2 separate regions of the Homo sapiens genome follow, and region 2 is linked to region 1. The links come from fine-mapping of genetic effects on gene expression. A gene starts in region 1. The other region holds a variant in brackets. All regions are shown on one strand. Distances are from middle to middle.

Region 1 (8,604 bases):
AACACAGTATTCTAATGGATCAAGACATTATTCTGAAGACTTGGGAGGGTAAATCTGACTATATGACTGATTAGCTGGAGGAAGTCAGTATTCGCTTTTATCTTTGATTCTAGCTATGAAAGGAAAAATATACTAAAGACTCCCTACTTTATATAAATGTAATAATAAACATGACAAAAATAAACATGACTGCATTTAGGAATCTACTTTTCATTCATAACAAAAGAAGCAACCTAATTATAAGCTTCCTTTTTTTTTCTTTTAAACTGTTTTCTCAAACTAATTTTTAGATGACCAACACATTTTCAAAGGACTCTATTAGAATGTTCAAAAATTTGACCTGTTGGATAGAATTTATGGAAATGATAAAAAGCAATTGGGCTATGAACTATTCAAAATAATCCATACAGGGACAGGATTAACTAATAAAAAGCCAGTAAGAACACATCCCCCAAACAGGAGACTTGTAAGGAAATTTGGCAGCAAAAATACTGCTGTTTATGTTACAAGACAATATTTAGAACTTTAAATGAAAGGCTTTAAGAGACAATAAGGTCGGGCGCGGTGGCTCACGCCTGTAATCCCAGCACTTTGGGAGGCCGAGGCGGGTGGATCATGAGGTCAGGAGATCGAGACCATCCTGGCTAACAAGGTGAAACCCCGTCTCTACTAAAAATACAAAAAATTAGCCGGGCGCGGTGGCGGGCGCCTGTAGTCCCAGCTACTCGGGAGGCTGAGGCAGGAGAATGGCGTGAACCTGGGAAGCGGAGCTTGCAGTGAGCCGAGATTGCGCCACTGCAATCCGCAGTCCGGCCTGGGCGACAGAGCGAGACTCCGTCTCAAAAAAAAAAAAAAAAAAAAAAATGGTCCCAGCTATTCCATGGAAAGCTATATACCATCCCCCAAAAAGTACAAAATCAAAGACAACTGGTAAATATGAGAAAGCACAGAAATAACAAAGAAAAAGATAATGTTAAAGTGTCTCAGGCCGGGCACGGTGGCTCACACCTGTAATCCCAGAACTGTGGGAGGCCAAGGCAGGCAGATAACTTGAGGTCGGGAGTTCGAGACCAGCCTGGCCAATATGGTGAAACCCCCACCTCTGCTAAAAATACAAAAATTAGCCGGCGTGGTGGCACGCGCCTATAGTCCCAGCTACTCGGGAGGCTGAGGCAGAAGAATCGCTTGAACCCAGGAAGCAGAGGTTACAGTGAGCCGAGATCGTGCCACTGCATTCCAGCCTGGGCGTCACAGCAAAACTCCGTCTCAAAAAACAACAACAAAAAATAAAGTGCCTCAAATCCTCCAAAAACAATGAAATATAAACACTTCAAAATACGCAGTTAGGGCTGGGCATAGAGACTCATGCCTGTAATCCCAGCTACTCGGGAGGCTGAGGCAGGAGAATCGCTTGAACCTGGGAGGTGGAGGTTGCAGTAAGCCAAGATCGTACCACTGCACTCCAGTCTGGGTGACAGAGTGAGACACCATCTTAAAAAAAATGCAGTTGGTTTAACTTGGCAAAACACCACTAGATCAAACTACACGAGAAAAAAAGACTGGACCTAATAAAAGAATAAAACAGCAAACAGGCTGTCAAGCTATTCCAAAAGACAAGGGTTACTAGGTTACCCAGTAAACCAATCTCACAAGGCCAGTGTCAGAGTAGATTTGATCTAAATCAAATATAAGTCACTGGTCAGGAGACTGATTACATATTCATGGATACAGTATATATTCTTCAGAGAAATTCTACCTGCTGTTTTCACTCCCACTAGAATGTAAGCTCGATGAGGGAAGAACATTTTTCTATTACTTCCCCACAGTCTATGCAATAAGTAATAATTACTCACTAAACAATTGAAAAGAATAAAATTATCCAACTATGACTTAAAATTTTGCACTTCCGTGAAGACAGTATGCATAGAATCACACATCTATCATCAGGATTTTTATCCCTCATCTAGAAATAAAGCTGCCCACGATCAATCGTTCTCTAAATTAAAGCCGGTTTCAGAACTAAAAGGAAGCTTTTACTGAACACACAATGGGATACTTTAGATTCAGATACAGTCATTTTTCCACTAGACAAACTAGTTTTGTTCTACATAATCCCTATTTCTTGATAATATCTGAGCTTCCTCTTCCAAAGCAGTAAAATACTCCTTTTGTAAATAAAGGATCTACTAAATATATTCCTTCACAGCCAACGGCCTGACAAACCTAGGTCATGTTTGCAGTAAACATTTAACAAGCACACAAGAGTAAAACCTCTTTAATCTACACAGAACAGATTAAAACCACCATGCAGGGAATCAACCCCAACATAATCACAGTCATTCACTACATAACATTTCAGTAAATGAAAGACTACATATACAACGGGGGTCCCATAAAATTGTAATATCGTATTTGTACTCTACTTTCCTATGTTTAGATATACAAAAACTTACCATTGTGTTACAACCACCTATAGCATTCAGTACAGTAACATGTTATACAGGTTTATAGCCTAGGAGCAATAGGCTGTACCATACAAACTAGGCGTGTAGTGCCATCCAGTTTTAAGTATACTCTATGATGTTTGCATAATGACAAAATCACCTAAGGATGCTTTTCTCAGAAAGTATCAACTGTAAATGTAATTCGACTGAGATGTGACTGAATATTCAATGTAGTATATACAGCATATATATTAATATATACATTATATATACTAATATATAATGTCTACATAGTGTATATATGCAATGTAAACACCAGAAAAACAAGAGAAGAAAATAAAGTTCACACGAGTACTTTGAAGATGATTCAGTAAAAGGACCTTAGTAATACTAAAAATATTTATACCTAGATAATGCCAGACTATTAGATTTCAGAACTTATAAAATAGGTAATTTAAAACATTACCTATAAATTTTTAAAATTCAAATTAAAACTTCATGAAATTCAAAAACTCACACTTCAGGAAGATAGTGGTATTTCTGAAGAGGATCTTTCCAAAACTAAAATAATTTTTCCCCTGCAAACATAAAGGAAAGATAATTAGCCTCAGATGGCTTCAATTACCAAAGCATCATATAACTATCTAAGACTGCTAGAAATTCCAACTTAACTTAAATCTTTATGGGACGTACCCCTTAATCAGTTCATTCCCTTTACTCACCAATCACTGCTCAGAATAACCAATCATTTTTTCTAATGAACTATTCTGTGTGCAAATAACCAGAGTTTTATTTTCAAATCTAAAAAGACTTAACTATTAACCATTTTAGTAACAAGTAAAAACCTAACTGAACACCTGAAAATCTTCACCACTGAACAAAAGGTATAACGTTTACCATAATAAAAGCCCAAATAAGATTTGGACATTACAGTCAGTGAGCAGAGCAGAATGAAACAAAAAGGCCAACGTAGGTTTAATGGGGCTAATGCTTTTCAGCATTTCCTCCCTGCATCTGGTTTTTGTCTGCTCACAGGACTATACCTGTTACTGAAATAAGGTTTAAAATGGGTAAGGGGCAGAAAGGGTCAACCCATGTAGTTAATTATCCAAATGAAAGACTAGCCTTACCACATTAAATTTTAAGTACTATTTCTTCAATTTTAACCATTCCCATGTTAAAACACATTTCTTAAATCTCTATGCTTTCTAGTCACACAGTAAAGCTTAGAATAGCCATTCCAAAGTTGAAGCGAAGTCGAACCATCTCGTAAGCAGAATTACCCAGGGACCAAGAAGTGCAGAGGAAGAAAAAGAAAGAAAGAAATGAAGACTCCTATTTACATATCTTTCTTATCCAACCCGGGGACACTGGATTCTGTGAAACATCTGAAAGATAAACAACTCTCCGTTTGTACATCAAGTTTACATCTCAAGTCAGGCACTGAAAGTTCTGTTTTTCTGATGAGAAGCCGCTCCACCACTCCTTTCTGTTGCTGAAGTGGCCCTTACATTCCCGCTAGCCTAATCACAGAAGTGCGCGGCTTTCCACTCCAGGGAGGTGGGTCCCAGTTGGCTAGCCACACAGACCATCCCAGCAACCCCACCCCTTTTGAAGAGACTTTTGCGGAACCTTCATGGACCCCTTGGGCCGCCGTAGCCCCACCCCTTGCTCCTCTAGGTTCAGACGTTAGTGAAGTGAATACTCACCGACGGTATCGGAATGTGCCATTTGGACCGGTCGGCAGCAGCTACGGTTGCCGGTCCCGCACTGAAAAACGACAGTGGTGACGGGTGAGCTCCCAGAAGCAGAAGAATGACAGGCAACACCTGAAGCCACGCAGCCGCCGCCATCTTCACAGCCGTGGAGTGCCTACCGAAAGCATTTCACCCTCTTCCGGTTCGTCCCGCCTTCTTCCGGCTCTGCTCTAAGGGCGGGATTATCCGGGTCCTGGAAACGTCGCGGAGCTTGTTTGCTGTGCGGCGTAGCGGCCCCTCTCTCAGACAGTCGTCTGTGCGCCGTGAGACTTTGGACCTACTGCGCAGGCGTCATCCTGTTGGAACCTGGTCAGCTGGGTTAGAGAGATCGCTACATGCCAGCCTGGCCTGAGTCTTTTCTGTCTCCCAGCCGTTAAAGGTTTTAGGACCAGGCAGGCACCCCGTGCAGGATTTGGCTCTCTACTTCCGCTCGCCCCAGCCCTTCATCCCTTCTAAGTCAATGTCAGACTTTGGGGCCAGAAAGTCTGGAAAAGCCCTAAGCCTGGCTGCCCAAGTGGCGTCTAGTAGTGAGTTCTCCGGTTTGGGTGGTATTTAAGCAAAGGCTGGAATTCGGCGGTGGTGGAGTACACGCGATTCCTAGACTGGGTAGTGTAACAACCTTCAAAGGCCCCTTCTAGCCCTGAAGAGTACGATGCTGCAGTACAATCTGGCTGGAGACCTAGCCTCCAGCAAAGACCCGGCCGGCACTTCCCACCCTTAACCGAAAACGGAGACAGAGAGGGTCAGTTTTCAAAATCTGTGGCGTGACCCCGCCACTGAGATAGATCTGCAGATGCTTCGTCCCAGTCAGGGAGGCCGTCTCGGCATTTCCAGGTTCTTAACGCTCTTGATTTTTACCCTCTAGGACTCATTGCGTACACGCCCTCACCGCCGCCCAGTTTCGGTTCCTAACAAAAGCACGTTCCTCATCAGCCACCCATAATCAAGACAAATTTGCCAAATAAATCATTGTAGAAACGCTAGTTTGGGCCTGAAAAATTCCAGGAGCAAGAGTCAAGATTTGTCACTCCATGAGAATCTGGAGGGGACTCCCTTCCCAGAAACTTGACGATGAAGTACTGGTTGTAATTTTAGAAAGACACCCAATCGGCTTTTTTAAAAGATCGCCCAGGGCCCTTGTCCTGAGAGCTGGGAGCTGGTCGGAGTGACAGAGAAGCCATGGAAGCAGCAGTGAAAGAGGAAATAAGGTAAAGGCCAAGTGCTTCTGTAGCGAGTGACCCCAGGGTCCCTAGAAACAGGGAATAGTGTTTTAATTGCATTTCTTATTTGCGTATTTGGTATTTGCTGACCTTTATCTTTTCTCTCAATTCGCGGGAAGTTAGTTGATATTAATAGCCTCTCATAAAATACTTTCAGGATGGTTAAATAGGCCGGGTGCAGTGGCTCACGCAGGTAATCCCACAGCACTTTGGGAGGCTAAGGTGGGAGGATCGCTTGAGTTCAGGAGTTCGAGACCCCCTCCCCGCCCCCTCGGAGTCCCAGCTACTTGGGAGACCACTGGGAGGATGGATTTGGAGGCTGCAGTGGAGCTGTGATCTTGCCACTGCTTGGGCAACAAAGTGAGACCCTGTCTCCAAAAAAAAAGGATGGTTAAATAACATTAACAGTGGAAAAGTTGCAATCAGAACTCTTAACACGTGAATTTCAGGCATGTTGCTTTCCAAATTCATCTATAATCACCCCTTCCTATATCATCCCAGAGTTAATTCTTCGAAGCTGTAAAGAGGAAACAAAAGATTCTCCAATCTTTGTACACTTGATTAAAATAAACTGGGCCGGTTCGCTCATGCCTGTAATCCCAGCACTTTGGGAGGCCTATAGGTGGGCAGATTGCTTGAACCCAGGAGTTCAGACCAGCCTGGGCAACATGCTGAATCCCTGTCTCTACAAAAATTTTAAAGTTAGCCAGACGTGGTGATGTGGGCCTGTAGTCCCAGCTACTCAGGAGGCTGAGGCAGGAAGATAGCCTGAGCCCAGGAGGCGGCAGTTGCAGCAAGCCAAGATCGTGCCACTTCACTCCAACGTAGGAGGCAGAGCGAGATCCTGTCTCAAAAAAAATTTTTTTAATAAATTAAAATAAACGGACAAAGACTGAGTTCAGTGAAGGACAAACAGTTTTTTAGTATGGCCAAGTATATCTGCCTGGGCTTGTTTTCATAATATTTCGACGTTTGTGTTCAGTCATAGCTTTCTACATAATCATGGACATGCTGACTACAGATGCATTCGGCCACACTAGTGCATGAAAGCCGGTGTAATTTTTTTTTCTCCTTATAATCTGTAGTTGTTTTAATCAGATGGAGGCTAGTTTAAATACATATACTCAAACTTCAATATACATATATCTCATTCATGTTTTATCCCAGAAACAGCTCTTCTGGAAACTTGGTTTTAAAAAACATGGCCCCTAGTTTGTCACCTCATCTTAAAAAGCAAGAAATTCCCCTTCTACGTCTGTTCTGTTCTTATTCTAGCACCTTGCACCTCTATTAAAGCATTTGTCAGCTTGTATTGTGATTGCTGGTAAAACCCTAACTGATAGCTTGAACACAGTTCATATCTTCCTCAGAGCCCAGCTCTCAGGAAGAATATTCTGAAAATATTTTCTTGAATAAATCGGTGGGTGGGTTATGGTTCTTAGTTTGTCTGGTTGGTTGGTTTTGGTTTGTTCGTTTTGGGATGCTGTTTTGGTTTTCCTCCTTCAGATTTTACTTTTGTGGTCATAGCCTTCAGTCATTATTTCAAAAGAATATGTCCTCATAAGTGACAGTGATCTTTTCCCATTACTTTTGGAGTAATCCCAGAACCTGATGTTTTGTTGTTTACCTCAGAGGGTTTACAAAAGGCTATTGTTCTGCAACATAATGTGCTATTATGTTATACTGTGGCCGTGACACAATTTTGCATTGCAGAATAGACTCCAAAGGTTTATTTTGCATGTTCATACTGTCGTTAGAGAAGGTACAAAAGTTGGATTCACAAGCCCTGTGTGAAATAAATTTCTCAAAATGTCTTTTTATTTAGTCTTGAAGATGAAGCTGTAGATAAAAACATTTTCAGAGACTGTAACAAGATCGCATTTTACAGGTAAGGAAAATAAATATAGTAGCTAGATCAAAACATCTCTGACAGTATTTCAAAATTGATGCTTATTAAATTTTTGGAACTGATAGACTTTCCAAGGAAAGGATAATTTAATAATTAAGGAAATCATCAGACAGGAGACTCACTTTTAACTTTATACATTTACTCCTGAAGTATTTAAATTTTTCAATAAACAGCTATTTTATTTTAAAAGCCAAAATATTTTTAAACTAGTTTTAAATTTTGACGCTTTGAATAGATAACACTTTTACATGGTTCAAAAATAATATAAAGAGCTATACATTGAAAAATGTTGCTTCCACTCCTGTCCCCTTCTACCCATTCCTCATCTTGTCCCGAATAACCGAATTTCTTCATTTCTTATTTATCCTTCCAGTATTTTTTTGTAAATACATGTATTTTTATATTATTGCTTTTCTCTTTTTTTAATCACCCCTTTTTATACCAAATAGGTTTTTTTTCCTGCTTTATAGTTTGTTCTGAGGAGAAATTCATATGAGTGCATGGAGATTGTTTCTCCTTTTTACAGCTGCATAATATTCCATGGGGTAGATATACTATTAATATAATTTATTCAGTCTGTCTCTTATTGCTAGACCCTTGGGTTGTTTTTAATCTTTTGCTAAAATAGCACTACCACAATGAAGAGCTATACATAGGTCATTTTCTACACATGCAGGTGTATTTATAGGATACCTTTCTAGGAGTGAGATTACTGGGTCAAAGAGTAAATGCATTTGAAATGTGTTAACTATTACCAGATTTCCCTCCATAGGAATTATACCATTTGTACTCCTATCAACATTATATAAGATTGCCTGGCTGGGCGAGGTGGCTCACACCTGTAATCCCAGCACTTCGGGAGGCCAAGGCAGGCGGATCACCTGAGGTTGGGAGTTTGAGACCAGCCTGACCAACATGCAGAAACCCCGTCTCTACTAAAAATACAAAATTAGCCAGGCATGGTGGCGCATGCCTGTAATCCCAGCTACTTGGGAGGCTGAGGCAGGAGAATTGCTTGAACCTGGGAGGCAGAGATTGTGGTGAGCCGAGATTGTGCCATTGCACTCCAGCCTGGGCAACAAGAGTGAAACTCCGTCTAAAAAAAAAAAAAGATTGCCTGTTTCTCCAGAGCTACAAAAAATATGCCTTTAAAATCTTCATTTTATTTTATTTTTATGCATTTTTTTGAGACGGAGTCTCCCTCTGTCACCCAGGCTGGAGTGCAGTGGCGCAATCACTGCCCACCACAACCTCCACCTCCTGGGTTCAAGCGA
Region 2 (8,000 bases), 59 kb after region 1:
TACTATGGCAGAGTTGAATAATTGAAAAAGAGACCTCATGGCCTGCAAAGTTGAAAATATTTACTATCTGGACCTTTACCAAAAATGTTTGCCAATCCCTGCTTTAGATGGTTCTAAAGGAAAGATATGGTAGTTAAATATTTGGAAATCATTTACCCCCTTATACATAGAAGAACACACATGTTTAGAAATAAAGATTCAAAAAAAAAAAAAAACAAGCCACCTCCAGGAATTTGAAAGACTTTCTTGTGGGCGAGGTGACAGATGTATTCTGTGGGGTCTCAGAAGGTAAGCTAGGTAGGCTCTGCGAGGGGAATGTTATATACAAGGAGCAGGATTTTTGAAAAATAATAGAATGAGCTGCCTGAGGGACTCCCTGTCTTTTTAGCTATTCAGTCAAACGCCAAAAGATAAGTGATTCTAGAAAAGACCAGGGATTCTACAATACCATGTTAGCTAGATGACTCAACTGTCCCTTCCCACTCTAAACTGAACAGTTCTGTGTAGGATACAAACTATAGATCATGTTAACAAACAGGTATATTGGCTGTCAAGTCTTTCAAAGTATTAGAGAGAAGGTAGAATCTTGTCATGTTCAGCTATAGTTGCCCTTAGTTAAGAGTTGTAGCATCTGATGAATGAGAAGGAGCCCAATTGTGAACATTCACAACCTTTCCCATAGGAGTCCTGCAGGGAGGTCTTGGAATGAATTTGCCAGGCAATATATATTTCACAGACAACACAGGGCAGCATTCTTTTATTCAGCAGCAAATATTTATTGAGATCTGTCTATGGGCCAGGTACTATTCTAGATGTTTGGGATTTATTAATGAACAAAACAGACAAAATGTTGTTCCCTGTGGAACTTATACTCTAGCAGTGGAGCAGAGGACAGAGCATAGATAATAAACATAATTTTTAAAATGAGGTAGCAATGGTGACAGCTATTATATAGACATCATCAATGTAGGAGTGTCATGACCAAGGTTTACTTCCTAGGGATCTACGGACATCCTCTTCCTTTGGAATGACATGAATGAGCCTTCTGTCTTTAGAGGGCCAGAGCAAACCATGCAGAAGAATGCCATTCATCATGGCAATTGGGAGCACAGAGAGCTCCACAACATCTACGGTTTTTATCATGTAAGACATCCAAAAAGAATTAAACTGGGCTTGTGTGACCCACCTTTTGGCTGAAGGTCATTTGCTTTGTGATATAATGGCTATTCTCTACTGTTCATTTCTCTTTGTGTGTCTTTTCTGACAACTGCAATGAGTCTTAGGTAGTAGCCAATACAAGACTTTTTATTATTTCTCCCTTTGCTTCTTTTCTTTTCATGATGAACTTGATGAACTTTTAAATATTATGAAATTAATTATAACATAAAGCTTCTGCCTTGATAGGAGCCATTAATAAGTGGCACTCACTGGCCACTACCTCAAACTTTTATTGATGCAAGCAGTATATAAATATGTGAATGAAGGTAATTAAAACAAGTGTTTTAAGATTTCACAGATATCTAAATACAGCAAATCTTATATTCACACTGGAGGAGCAATATTTAGAACACAGACACACAGCTTCAATAAGTATATTTTAAAAATGTAAAGCCTTCCTTAAGTACTTAGCTTCCTCAATAAAGGTGGTAAAATTATCTTTCATTTGCCAACTACATCCAAAAGACGTGGCAGACACTTGACCTCATGTATACCCATGGTTCTTTGTTATTTTCAAATTGTGACTGTATTCCTGTGGCCCTCTTACCTATTGGTATTTTCCAATGGGATCTTTTGGCTAAATATAAGCATAGTTTTCAGATTGTGTGTGTTTGCCTCTTTAACAGCCTGTTGCAGTAACTGTAGACTGCTTTAGTTAGTGAGCTGTCTTATATAGGTCAGGACCAGTCATTTAACCTCTCTGAAGCTCAGTTTTTCGTACCAATGAAAACTGTCTGTCTCAGAGGTTGTTACGGAGATTATATGAGAAAATTATATTAAATGCCTAGCAATAGTAAGCACCAAAGAAATGCTAGATGATTGTTTATTATTATTTCATTGCTATTGTTAACCAAAGAAAATTTTCCATTCTTTTAATAGGGGAATTTAGAGTAATTTCATTATACCATGAAAATTATTTGATGGATTTATTTTAATATTTTCCATTTCATGCTCCTGCCTACTGTTTGCTTTTTGTATGTTAGATAGCTTATTGGGGATGTCTGTACAAATCCAATCATCTCTTTGAAATTTTTCTTGTTTGGTGATATAGCAAATGGCTACTGCAGAAGGACTGATAAAACGATCTAAAGGGAAGGAGAGACCCTTTGTTCTTACACGTTCTTTCTTTGCTGGATCACAAAAGTATGGTAAGGAATGGCTCATATCAGACTTAAAAACACATTAGCAACTTTTTTTTTAACCATTTATAGAATGTGATGTTACTGTGCTGATGCCTTCCTTTTCCTTTTTTTTTTTTTTTTTTTTTTCATTTGTTTGTTTGAAACAGAGTCTCGCTTTGTCACCCAGGCTGGAGTGCAGTGGCACAGTCATGACTCACTGCAGCATTGACCACCTGGGCTCAAGCAATCCTCCCACCGAAGCCTCATGAGTAGCTGGGATTACGGGTGCACACCACCACACCCAGCTAATTTATATATGTATATGTATTTTTTGGTAGAGACAGGGTTTCACCATGTTGCCCAGGCTAGTCTCGAACTCCTGGACTCAAGCGATCTGCCCACCTTGGCCTCCCAAAGTGTTGTGATTACAGGTGTGAACCACCACACTCAGCTGATGCCTTCCTTTTCAATAGCCATTGGTCAGGCCTTTGATTGTAGACAGTGGTATGCCCTAAAGTGTGGATTTTGTCCTATAAGACAGAATAAACAAATTTTAGTCATTTGATACTTGTTTCTCACTGAAGAAATGGCCACTTCGTTGTTGGGAGAGTAACTTCTAAGTATTCAGTTTGCTGGGATAGTCATCTTTGGTCCTGTCTCTTTGATTTATCAAAGCCAGGGAGATACACCTCTAACACATTCCATTAACCAACTGTTCCACTTAGAAATGTGGCTTAAAATAGACCTGGCTGTTGCGTGTGGTCAGGGTCATCTATAACTGGATGCAGTTTACCAGCTAATGCAGATCTGGTTCAACTTAACAACCCTGTGGCAGGAAGGCTATTTTAAGTCCCCTGGCCTTGCATAAGCAACGGAGAGCTTAGATCCTAGTTTAAAGAATCCAGCCCTTACTATCCTGTGGACATTATTAAGCCTCCCACTCCACCCCTGAAAACCTGGCCCTGTGGCATTCTGGAAAGGGCCAAAATATTACAATCTCAGGCAAAGATTCATGTACAGAGGTATTCAACACAGTGGTAGTCCTTGAAACAAAAGTAAGAAAGAAAATCTAAATACATAACAATAAGGGAATAGTTATAAAAGTATGGTATAGCAACATGATAGATTATCGTGAGGCTATTTATGTTTAAAAAATTTTTTTTCTTTTTTTAATTTTCATAAGGCTATTTTAAATGGTAGATTTAATTGCAT[GA/G]AAAAATGTTTTTGATATGATAAATAAAAAAAGGAACACCTAAGTGTTTATAATATTAACCTAATTTTGTATTGATATGTATTAGATGTACATATTTTCAGGATATGTGTGATAATTTGATATGTTCATATAATCAAATCAGAGTAATTGGGATATCTATCACCTTAAATATGTATCTTTTCTTTATACTAGGAACGTTTAAATTATTCTCTTTTAGCTTTTTTAAAATGCACACAATCAAGGCTAACTATAGTCACCTTACTGATCTATCAAACATCAAGTCTTATTTCTTATTATCTCAATTTTATAAAAGATTAATGGAAGATAGTAATTTAAATAAATAAGTGGGTAGATAGGCAGACAGTTAAATATAAGAAAATGTAATACCTTGGTGATTTTGAGTGATTTTCATTTTTTTCTTTTATCTAACTTTATTTTACAAATTGTCTACAAGTATCATTTTTAATCACAAAAAAAAGTATTTTTAATGAAAACATTTACCAGCAACAGTTAAAAAAAGATAACAGAAGATTTAAATATTAGGTTATTGTTGATCTCTTATGTTGGTCCATTGCTTAGCCTGCAGTACTCTGTGTGAAGCTATCAGCTTTGCTTCACTGTGTAGCAAGACATTACAGGAAACACTACTTTGTTAAGTCATATGCGATGATCAATAGCCATAGAGAACTTCTGACTAAACAATAGTATGAGACATGAAAATATCTGCATGTTTATGTGAGCTTTCTTTCTTGATGAGAATGTCTCCATACGGATTTCAAAATCATTATGTAAATACGTACATATCTCGCTTGAAGTCAAGAGGAAATTAGAATACTTTTTTAAAAGAACAATCCCTGGAAAATATTTTTTTTGAGCCAGGCACAGTGGCTCAAACCTGTAATCCCAGCACTTTGGGAGGCCGAGGCGGGTGGATCACCTGAGGTCAGGAGTTCAAGACTAGCCTGATCAACATGGTGAAACCCTGTCTCTACTAAAAAAAAAAAAAAAAAAAATAGCTGCGTGGTAGCGCGCACCTGTAATCCCAGCTACTAGGGAGGCTGAGGCAGGAGAATCGCTTGAACCTGGGAGGCAGGGGTTGCAGTGAGCAGAGATCGTGCCATTGCACTCCAGCCTGGGCAACAAGAGCAAAACTCTGTCTCAAAAAATATATATATATATATTTTTTTTGGTCACGAGCAGTGGCTCATGTCTGTAATCCCAGTACTTTTCTGAGGCAGGTGGGCAGATCACTTGAGGTTAGGAGTTTGAGACCAGCCTGGGCAACATGGTGAAACCCTGTCTCTACTAAAAATACGAAAATGAGCCAGGCATAGTGGCACATGCCTGTAGTCCCAGCTATTCAGGAGGCTGAGGCAGGAGAATTTCTTGCAACTGGGAAGTGGAAGTTGCAGTGAGCCAAGATTGCACCACTGCAGTCCAGCCTGGGCCACAGAGTGAAACTCCATCTCAAAAAAAAAAAGAATTTTTTTTTTCCTGGCCATAGGGCGGCCTAAAATTTCTATGAAAGATTAAAACAAAAATAGCTACCAAAACTATTTTGGTAGAAGATAGACAAAAATGCTTCAGAAGTAGTATATATTTCATAAAATAAGACTTTCCCTTTTATGGCTGTCTTTGGTGGTATATAATCTCTCATCACAAACTCTTAGCAACTCTTCAGTAAATAAGAACAAGAACACTGGCTTAGGCATCAGAGTGCCTGGGCTCAAATCCTGCCTCTACCACTTAATAACTGTGTAACTCTGGGTAGATTATGCATCCATTGCTTGCTATACTTCCCTCATCTATAAAATTGAGTTTATAATAGTGTTTATCTGATAGGATTGTTGTGATTATTAAGTAGGATAATACCAGCAAACTATTCGGCATAACACCTGGCTCAGTATGGGTTAAATAAATGTTAATTATTGTTATTGCTACTGTTATTATGTCTCCCCTTTAAGGCCTGTAACACTTCTCTCAAATTTTTTAGGGTTTTCTTTGGAAGCAGGGGCTGGTGGAGGTGGGAGGAAATAGGTACATAGATCAATTGAACAGAGTAGAGAATCCAGAGTATCCAACACATATGTGATCAATTGCTTTGCAACAAAGTTTCCAAGGCAATTTAATGGAGAAATTACAATTTCTTTTCAGTAAATGGTTCTGAAACAACTGGATATCTGTGTGGGGAAAAAAATGAAACTACACCCCTACCTCATACCATATTCAAAATTAAACTAAAAAATTAACTCATTTTAAAAGCTAAAAATACAACCTAACTTCTGGAAAAAAACATAGAATAAAATCTTTTTTTTTTTTTTGAGATGGAGTCTCACTCTGTTGCCCAGGCTGGAATGCAATGGCATCATCTCAGATCACTGCAACCTCCACCTCCCGGGTTCAAGTGATTCTCCTGCCTCAGCCTCCTGAGTGGCTGGGATTACAGGTGCCCACCACCACACCTGGCTAACTTTTACATTTTTAGTAGAGACAGGGTTTCACCATGTTGGGCAGTCCGGTCTTAAACTCTTGACCTCAAGTGATCTGCCCTCCTCGGCTTCACAAAGTGCTGGGATTACAGGCGTGAGCCACTGCACCTGGCCAGTAGAAAATCTTTATGGCTTTGAAACAGACAAACATTTCTTAGAAAGAACACAAAAAGCATGAATCATAAAAGAAAAAAATGACAAATTAGACTTTATCAAAATTTAAAAATGTCTGCCCTTTCAAAGACATTGGTAAGAAAATGAAATGGCAAGCCACCGACTGAGGAAAAAAATATTTGAAATATACATATACAGATATATCTGCCAAAATACTTGTATCCAGAATATATAAAGAACTTTTACTACTCAATAATAATAAGAAAGACAACCTACTTTAAGAGTTGGTTTTCTGAAAAAAAAATAATAATAACAAAATAGATAGACTGCTAGCTAGACTAATAAAGAAGAAAAGAGAGAAAATCCAAATAAACACAATTAGGAATTACAAAGGAGAAAATGTAGGAGAAATGGATAAATTCCTGGACACATATACCCTCCTAAGACTGAACCAAGAAGAAATTGAATCCCTGAAAAGACTAATAACGAGCTCCAAAATTGAATGAGTAGTAAAAAGCCTACCAACCAAAAATAGCCCAGGACCAGACAGATTCACATCCCAGTTTTACCAGATGTACAAAGGAGAGCTGATACCATTTCTACTGACACTATTTCAAAAAATTGAGGAGGAAAGACTCCTCCCTAACTCATTCTATAATGCCAGCATCATCCTGATGCCAAAACCTGGCAGAGACACAAAAAAGAGAAAATTTCAAGCCAGTATCCTCGATGAACATTGATGCAAAAATCCTCAACAAAATACTGGCAGACTGAATTCAGCAGCACATCAAAAAGCTTATCCACCGTGATCAAGAAGCCTTTATCATTGGAATGCAAGGTTGGTTTAACATACCCAAGTCAATAAATGTGATTCATCACATAAACAGAACTAAAGACAAAAACCACATGATCATCTCAATAGATGCAGAAAAAGCTTTCAATAAAATTCAGCATCCCTTCTTGTTAAAAACTCTCAGCAAACTAGGTACTGAAGGAACATACCTCAAAATAATAAGAGTCATATTTGACAAATCCACAGCCCACATCATACTAAATGGGCAAAAGCTGGAAGCATTCCCCTTGAAAACTGGCACAATACAAGGATGCCGTCTGTCACCACTCCTATTCAAAATGATATTGGAAGAAGTCCTGGCCAGAGCAGTCAGGCAAGAGGAAGAAATAAAGTGCATCCAGATAGAAAGAGAGGAAGTCAAACTATTCCTATTTGCAGATGACATGACTCTGTCTAGAAAACCCCATAGTCTCAGCCCAAAAGCTCCTTAAGCTAATAAACAACTTCAGCAAAGTCTCAGGATACAAAATCAACATATAATAATCATTAGCATTTCTATACACCAACAACAGTCAAGCCTAGAGCCAAATCAGGAGCATAGTCCCATTCACAATTGCCTCAAAAAGAAGAAAATACCTAGGAATACAGCTAACCAGCGAGGTGAAAGATCTCTACAATGAGAACTACAAAACGCTGCTCAAAGAAATCAGAGATAACACAAGCAAATAGAAAAACATTCCATGCTCATGGATAGGAAAAATCAATATTGTTGAAATGGCCATACTGCCCAAAGCAATTTATAGATTCCGTGCTATTCCTGTCAAACTACCAATGACATTCTTCACAAAACTAGAAAAAACTATTTTAAAATTCATATTGAACCAAAAAAAAAAAAGAAAAAAAAAAGAGCCTGAATAACCAAGGCAGTCCTAAGCAAAAAGAACAAAGCAGGAGGCAATATGCTACCCAACCTCAAACTACTACAAGGCTGCAGTAACCAAAACAACATGATACTGGCACAAAAACAGGCATGTAGACCAATGGAACAGAAT

The links. PIP is the estimated chance that this variant, and not a neighbour inherited with it, causes the effect.
Region 2: its variant is the best candidate, but not a certain one, in a credible set for the expression of TMEM87A in nasal epithelium (TOPMed, PIP 0.59).

The regions. Positions count from the first base shown.
Region 1 is chr15:42,269,102-42,277,705 of GRCh38, forward strand. TMEM87A (transmembrane protein 87A) reads right to left here and starts at 4,332. Exons shown (of 20, transcript NM_015497.5): 1 at 4,154-4,332; 2 at 2,962-3,022. The coding sequence starts at 4,297. It overlaps GANC (glucosidase alpha, neutral C), which reads left to right and starts at 4,100. Exons shown (of 24, transcript NM_198141.3): 1 at 4,100-5,409; 2 at 7,247-7,309. The coding sequence starts at 5,381. RefSeq lists enhancers at 3,682-3,931, 4,092-4,321, 4,294-5,493.
Region 2 is chr15:42,328,307-42,336,306 of GRCh38, forward strand. It overlaps GANC (glucosidase alpha, neutral C), which reads left to right. Exons shown (of 24, transcript NM_198141.3): 14 at 1,000-1,143; 15 at 2,270-2,366. Among named protein-coding and RNA genes, the nearest start is that of CAPN3, 27 kb to the right of the region's middle. The variant GA/G (reference allele first, on the strand shown) is at 3,552.